Linked DNA regions of Homo sapiens. The protein of the gene in region 1 purifies or fractionates together with the protein of each later gene. This does not show direct contact. Each region holds a gene or a part of one and is shown on either strand. Other genes may lie near its edges.

Evidence for each region.
Region 2: the proteins of VIPAS39 (region 1) and VPS33A purify together in Homo sapiens (affinity purification with western blotting; one study listed by BioGRID and IntAct). This does not show direct contact.

Annotation. Positions count from the first base shown.
Region 1 is NC_000014.9:77,451,102-77,454,601, forward strand, and holds part of VIPAS39 (spermatogenesis-defective protein 39 homolog), read right to left. Parts: intron 3,002-3,500; coding exon 2,909-3,001; intron 2,301-2,908; coding exon 2,198-2,300; intron 233-2,197; coding exon 86-232; intron 1-85.
Region 2 is NC_000012.12:122,252,995-122,256,494, reverse strand, and holds part of VPS33A (vacuolar protein sorting-associated protein 33A), read left to right. Parts: intron 1-2,951; coding exon of another isoform or gene 2,952-3,029; exon of another isoform or gene 3,030-3,500.

The DNA.
Region 1 (3,500 bases):
CTTACAAAGTAAATGAAAATTATGGCCTAAGATTTTTCTGGAAAAAGAGAAGGACTTCCCTATCCATTTAAGCATCTCTCTTTACCTCTAAAAAAGCTGCTCAGGGAGTAGGTAGAAGTAGGCTTGGGTAGTTGTGCATAGGAGGAGAAGCTGTTTCGGCTCTTTAGCTGTTCACGCCCCTCGTGGGTTGAGCCGCTATTACCAGCAGTCTCTCTGATGGACCATGAGATACCTGTGAGATAGTAAGAACTACATCAGCAATTCTCATCCACAATAAAGCCTTGACATCCAACATTCAATAAACTCTAAAAGCTTTTCACCAGAAGCCCTGGTCCCTTGGCCAACTTGGGGCAGGGAGAAAAGATAGAATCAAATAGACTAATCAGCAGAAAAATGGACCAAGGACATGAATAGGTGGATCACAGAAAATTCAAATGGCTCTTCAACATATGAAAAGATGCTCAACCTTACTCTTTTTTCTCTTTTTTTCTTTTTTTTTAGAGACAGGGTCTCACTACATTGCCGGAGCTCTGGAGTACAGTGGCTATTCACAATCATATCTAACAGTCATGTCTCACGTCAGCCTCAACTCCTGGCCTCAAGCCATCCATCGCCACTACCCTCCAGAGGCACACACCACCTGCCCCCAGCTTTGCTAAGAGTACTACAAATTAAAAATATAATGAGAAACCATTAGTCCCCTATAAGATGGGGAAAGATCCAAAAGCTTGATAATACCGTGTTAGCCAGGCTATAGGGAAACTGGAACCCTCCTCCATTGCTGGTGGTAGTATGAATTGGTACAACCCCTGTGGAGGTCAATTTGGCAATATCTACCCAATACAGATGCAAACATCCTATGTGAGTAATTCCACTCTAAGAATTGCTCTTTCATTTATGCATCTATGGTCAGAATATAAAGTCAATGATAGAAATATAAAGAGCAAAAGATTGAAAAATCTAAAATTCAACAGTGGGCTGGCTAAAAAATGATGGTAAACCCATACAATTTAATACTATGCTGCTATTTAAAAAAAAGAAAGAGAAAATGAGAACACTCTTTATATACTGACATGGAAAGATCTCCAAGCTATATTAACACATAAAAAGAGCAAGGTATGAAGCATGCTACTGCTTGTGTAAAAATGGGATAAGAATACATGTTTCTATATACTTTTCCAGATGCAAAAAGAGTCTTTAGATGAATACACAGGAACCAAGCAACGATTGTTTTTTGGGAGGACATGAACTGAAAACTGAGAAGATACATAACAATATGGAACGGAAACTTTTCACTGTAGACCTTTAATTTTTTTTTTTTAATCTTTAGTCACATTATAGTATGGCCTATTTTTTAAAAACTTTCAATTAAAAATATTTCTTAAAAATCAGATGGGGACCAGGGATGGTGGCTCATACCTATAATCCCAGCATTTGGGAGGCCAAGGCAGGCGGATCACTTGAGGTCAGCAGTTCAAGACCAGCCTGGCCAACATGGTAAAACTCCATCTCTACTAAAAATACAAAAATTAGCCAGGCATGGTGGTTGGCACCTTTAATCCCAGCTACTAGGGAGGCTGAAGCATGAGAATCGCTTGAACCTGGGAGGCGGAGGTTGCAGTGAGTCAGGATCGCGCCATTGCACTCCAGACTAGGCAACAGAGTAAGACTCCATCTCAAAAAAAAAAAAAAAAAAAAATCAAATGGACTCTGAAAAAGTATTAAGTGGTATCATATACAGCTAAGCAGTGAGACTTGGTGGGTAAGGAAGTCCGTTCTGTCAATCAGTTATTAGTATACTGAGTCAAGTCAGTAGTTCCCAAATATGGCTATATATCAGAATCACCTGCAGTGTTTATTAAAATTTGAGACCCCCTCTACTCCGCAGAAGACCTAATGAACAGAATCTCTGGGATAAAGCCTAGGAGTATGTCATTTTAACAAGCACCCCAAATGAGAATGAAATAGCCAGCTAAGAGTCAACCCCTGAAGAGCAGACCTATATAGCCATGTGGGAACTCCTGCTGGATTTCCCAAGTATCTTCTCCTGGAGTTAAGTTTCCAGATGTATGCTTATCTGAAAATAGTCTTATCCTAGTCCCTCTCCTAACTAGCATTGAAGAAACAAACAAGTAGAGCCTTTATCAGTGATAAGAATCCTCAACATCTATCCCTGCCTAGGGACTCTTCTACTTACTTCCCACAGGTTCCCCACTCCAGCTGACTCGCTCCAGGTCATCATCGTCATCATCATCCACGAAGTCTCGGAGGCTGTTCACCGCCCGCTTGGACTCCTTTAACTGCAGAGGGACACAAGGCTAGGGTGCTCAGGCAAATCATCATTTCCCACCTCTCTTCTGACAATCAAGAAGGCTGAGGAATTGGGGCCTGAAGGTGGCCAACACTCGCCCTGTGCAATCGAAAGCCTAGCATACTACATATTTGCCAAGAAAACAAACTGATTTTTAGCCAACACTACAGTCCAGTGATAAAAGAGTTAGGAGGAATCAAAGTCACTTTTGAATTCTCATCATATTCCTGGCAGTGACTTGCTATGTAAACCTGAGTGAATTTATTCACCTCTCTAAAAATAAATGATTCCTCAATTGCAAAATAGACACAACAAAGATAAATCTTCCAATCCAGTTCATCTTTCAAAAATAAAAAAATATATATCACATAAATAAAAGACTTGGGGTTCTTCAAAAGAAAAAAAAACCTGTAGGAATAAATCATCTTAAAAAGGTAAAGTAAGAAAGGCAGTGAGCTGGATTTTACAATCCTTCTGGCTCTTTTCTGAGCCTAATGAAGACATACATGGTCAAAAGCCTAGTTACCCAGAATGCAAGAGGAAGGAATTTTATAGTGGCACTGTGGAGAAGAGTACAAACTTCAGCAGTTGACCTACCTGTGAAAGCTCATCGTCTTCATCGTCAAAGGTAAAAGCCTTGAACTTGGAGCTGTTCCAATACTCCTCCTCATCACCCTTTGTCCGATTCATCTACAGTGACAGGAAAACATACATTGCCCCTTTCTGGGTCTCTCCCTAAAGAGTTCCAAAAGCTTTAGTTTCCTGCACCACTAACTGATCCCAAAAATCAAGGATGCAGAAAAGAATCTGGTAAAACAAATATTGAACCTGCCATATAAAACCAGATTCTTGGGTCTCCAACTGATCAAATCATACTTCTAATCTTCTAATTACCCATAAGTAGTCATCCATTCTTAAGAGCATCCACTTTGTCCAGGGCACTCTCTCAGGTGTTGTAAGGTATATAAAAAAGTGCCAGAGGCTGGGTGCAGTGGCTCAGGCCTTTAATCCCAGCACTTTGGGAGGCCGAGGCAGGCAGAACACCTGAGGTCAGGAGTTCGAGACCAGCCTGACCAACATGGAGAAACCCCGTCTCTACTAAAAATACAAAATTAGCCGGGCATGGTGGCGCATGCCTGTAATCCCAGCTACTCAGGAGGCTGAGGCAGGAGAATCGCTTGAACCCAGG
Region 2 (3,500 bases), on another chromosome or scaffold:
TCAAGCAATTCTCCCGTCTTAGCTATCCGAGTAGCTGGGATTACAGGAACGCGCCACCACGCCAGGCTAATTTTTGTATTTGTAGTGGAGATGGGGTTTCACCATGTTGGCCAGGCTGGTCTCGAACTCCTGACCTCAAGAGATCTGCCTGCCTCAGCCTCCCAAACTGCTGGGACTGCAGGTGTGAGCCACTGTGCCTGGCCTTTTTTTCTTCTTACCAATAAAATACTTCGAAGGTAGAGACTAGAACTTTAGGGAACCGCTGGTATAGTACATAAAATTATTGGAATCTTTTTTTCCCCATTGTGTTGTTACAGAGATCACCTCGTTAAAAGAGTTAATTTGTTGACAGTTTTCACAAAAGGGGGAAAAATGAAACTTATTTAAAAAAATAAAATAGGCCAGGCACAGTGGTTCATGCCCGTAATCCCAGCACTTTGGGAGACCAAGGTGGGAGGATCACTTAAGGCCAGGAGTTCGAGACCAGCCTGGGCAACAGAGTGAGGCCCTGTCTTTACAAAAAACTAGCCACACGTGGTGATGTGCACCTGTCATTCCAGTAACTCAGGAGGCTGAGGCAGAAGGATCACTTGAGCCCAGGAGGTTGAGGCTGCAGGGCGCTGTGATCACACCAGTGCACTCCTGCCTGGGTGACAGAGTGAGACCCGGCCACAGAAAAAGCGAAAAATAAAAAAGTTAATCTGGGGCAGTAGAAGTCAGTGGCACCACCGACTAATCCTATAACCAGGGGACTTTCTTGGCTTTTTTTTTTTTTTTTTTTTTTTTTGAGACGGAGTCTCACTCTTGTTCCCCAGGCTGGAGTGCTGTGTGGCGCAATCTCGGCTCACTGCAACCTCCGCCTCCCAGGTTCAAGCGATTCTCCTGCCTCAGCCTCCCGAGTAGTTGGAATTACAGGTGCCCGCCACTGCACCTGGCTAATTTTTTGTATTTTTAGTAGAGACGGGGTTTCACCATGTTGGCCAGGCTGGTCTCGAACTCCTGACCTCATGATCTGCTCATCTCGGCCTCCCAGAGTGCTGGGATTACAGGCGTGGGCCATTGCGCCCAACCCTCTTGGCTCTTTTGTACCTTGTTCCCTAGTGGTTTGCTTACACGAAATCCTACCTGATGGTAATATAGATTTCCTTCTAACATTTTATAGGAAAATTTCAATATACCAAAAAATTGAATTGTACAGTGAACACCTGTCTATCCACCACTTATCTTCTGGATTAACAGTTTTCTATATGTGCTTTATCACATACCTGTGATGGTATACTCATTTTTAATTAATCCATATTTGTGTATTTAATGGGAATTGGTAGCAGCCGAAGCAAACTCTCTTGGAGTGACAAAATCTGTGCAGAGGAGAAATAACCTGTTTATTTTACTTATGATTTGTAAGAAAGGGCAGAACTATTTTCTTTTTTTTTTTTTTTTCCTTGAAACTGAGTTTCACTCTGCCGCCTAGGCTGGAGTGCGTTGGTGCCATCTCGTCTCATTGCAGCCTCCACCTCCTGGGTTCAAGTGATTCTCCTGCCTCAGCCTCCTGAGTAGCTGGGACTACAGGCGCCAGCCACCACACTGGCTAATTTTTTGTGTTTTTGGTAGAGACAGGGTTTCACCATGTGGCCCAAGCTGGTCTCGAACTCCTGACCTCAGGCGATCCACCGCCTCAGCCTCCCAAAGTGCTGGGATTACAGGCGTGAGCCACCGCGCCTGGCCAGAACTATTTTCTACTGACAATTTCAAGCCTTTGGCTTTGTATATTCACCTAAGATGCTGTTTTGGCCGGACATGGTGGCTCCTACCTGCCAGCACTTTGGGAGGCTGAGGTGGGCGGATCATCTATGGTCAGTAGTTCGAGACCAGGCTGGGCAACATAGCAAAACTCCATCTCTACTAAAAATAAAACAAAATTAAAATTAGCTGGGTGTGGTGGTGCATGCCTGTAATCCCAGCTACTTCGCAGACTGAGGCAGGAGAATCACTTGAGCCCAGGAGGCAGGGGTTGCAGTGAGCCAAGATTGCACCACTGTACTCCAGCCTGGGCAACAGAGCGAGAGCCTATCTCAAAAAAAAAAAAAAAGGCGGGGGGGTGGATTGGGGGAGTTAGAGGAAGTGGCAGAAAGAAAAAGAAAGGACTTTATCCGGATGGCACAGCTAAGAGCTTCGACCTAAGAGCCTAATGTTAAAGTCAGCCCCGATTTTTGGTGGAGATGACGTTAATCGTATTTCTGTGATTGGCTTCAGGAGGTACATCTAGATCTCTCTGTGTTTTGAGTTACAGTTGTGACCATCTATGTCATTGTTCTGTGTAAAATGTGGGAATTAGAGTTCTGCCCAGTCAAATGCTCAATAACATTGCTTAAGGTACTGTGGCCTTTACGCGTATATATAAAAATCAGCATATATAAAACCTGCCTCTTGTATGGTATTCTGCAAGGTATTCTGCTGTGTGGGTATGTGAGACTTTGGGGTTAAAAAAATGCGCATTTAAATGTTAAGGGTATTGGGCTGGGTGTGGTGGCACTTTGGGCGGCCAAGGCAGACGGATCACCTGAGGTTAGGGGTTCGAGACCAGCCTCGGCAACGTGGTGAAACCCCATCTCTATTAAAAACACAAAAACTTAGCCAGGCATGGTGGTGGGCACCTATGATCCCAGCTACTCAGGAGGCTGAGGCAGGAGAATCACTTGAACTCGGGAGGTGTAGGTTGCAGTGAGCTGAGGTTGCCCGACTGCACTCCAGCCTGGGTGATAGAGCAAGACTCTGTCTCAAAAAAGGAAAAACAACCAAGATTAAAATCTGTTGTTAACTTTTACATCTTTTAAAAAATATTGTAAAAGAGATGTCTTTGTAGTAGTACAACTTAAAAAAATTAAGTAAAATATGAATGCTATTTGGAGAGGAGTTCCTTAATGTCTTTTTTTTTTTTTTTTTTGAGACAGTCTTGCTCTGTTGCCCCGGCTGGAGTGCAGTGGCACAATCTCAGCTCACTGCAACCTCCACCTCCTGAGTTCAAGTGATTCTGCTGCCTCAGTCACCTGAGTAGCTGGGATTACAGGCACATGCCACCACACCTGGCTAATTTTTGTATTTTTAGTAGAGAAGGGGTTTCACCATTTTGGTCAGGCTGGTCTAGAACTCCCGACCTCATGATCCTCCCCGCTCAGCCTCCCAAAGTGCTGGGATTACAGGCGTGAGCCACCGCACCCAGCCCTCAATGTCTTTTGCCCTTGAACGTTCATCTGATCTGGAGTTTTAAGTGGTTTTGCCAAAAAGCGTGTCTTTTGACATATTCTCGATGGTCTGCCATATTCAGGGAAACGTTAAAATATACCACACTTGAAAGAGTAGTCCGGCGACACTCTCAATAATAACCAAACGCTCCCCACCATGTCTGCCATCCTTCCTCCCTGGGGCAGAGGGCCTGACAAGTGACAACCCCGCTCTCTCTTCCTCAGGCCCTGGACCCTCAGGGCCCCCTCAGTTCTGGC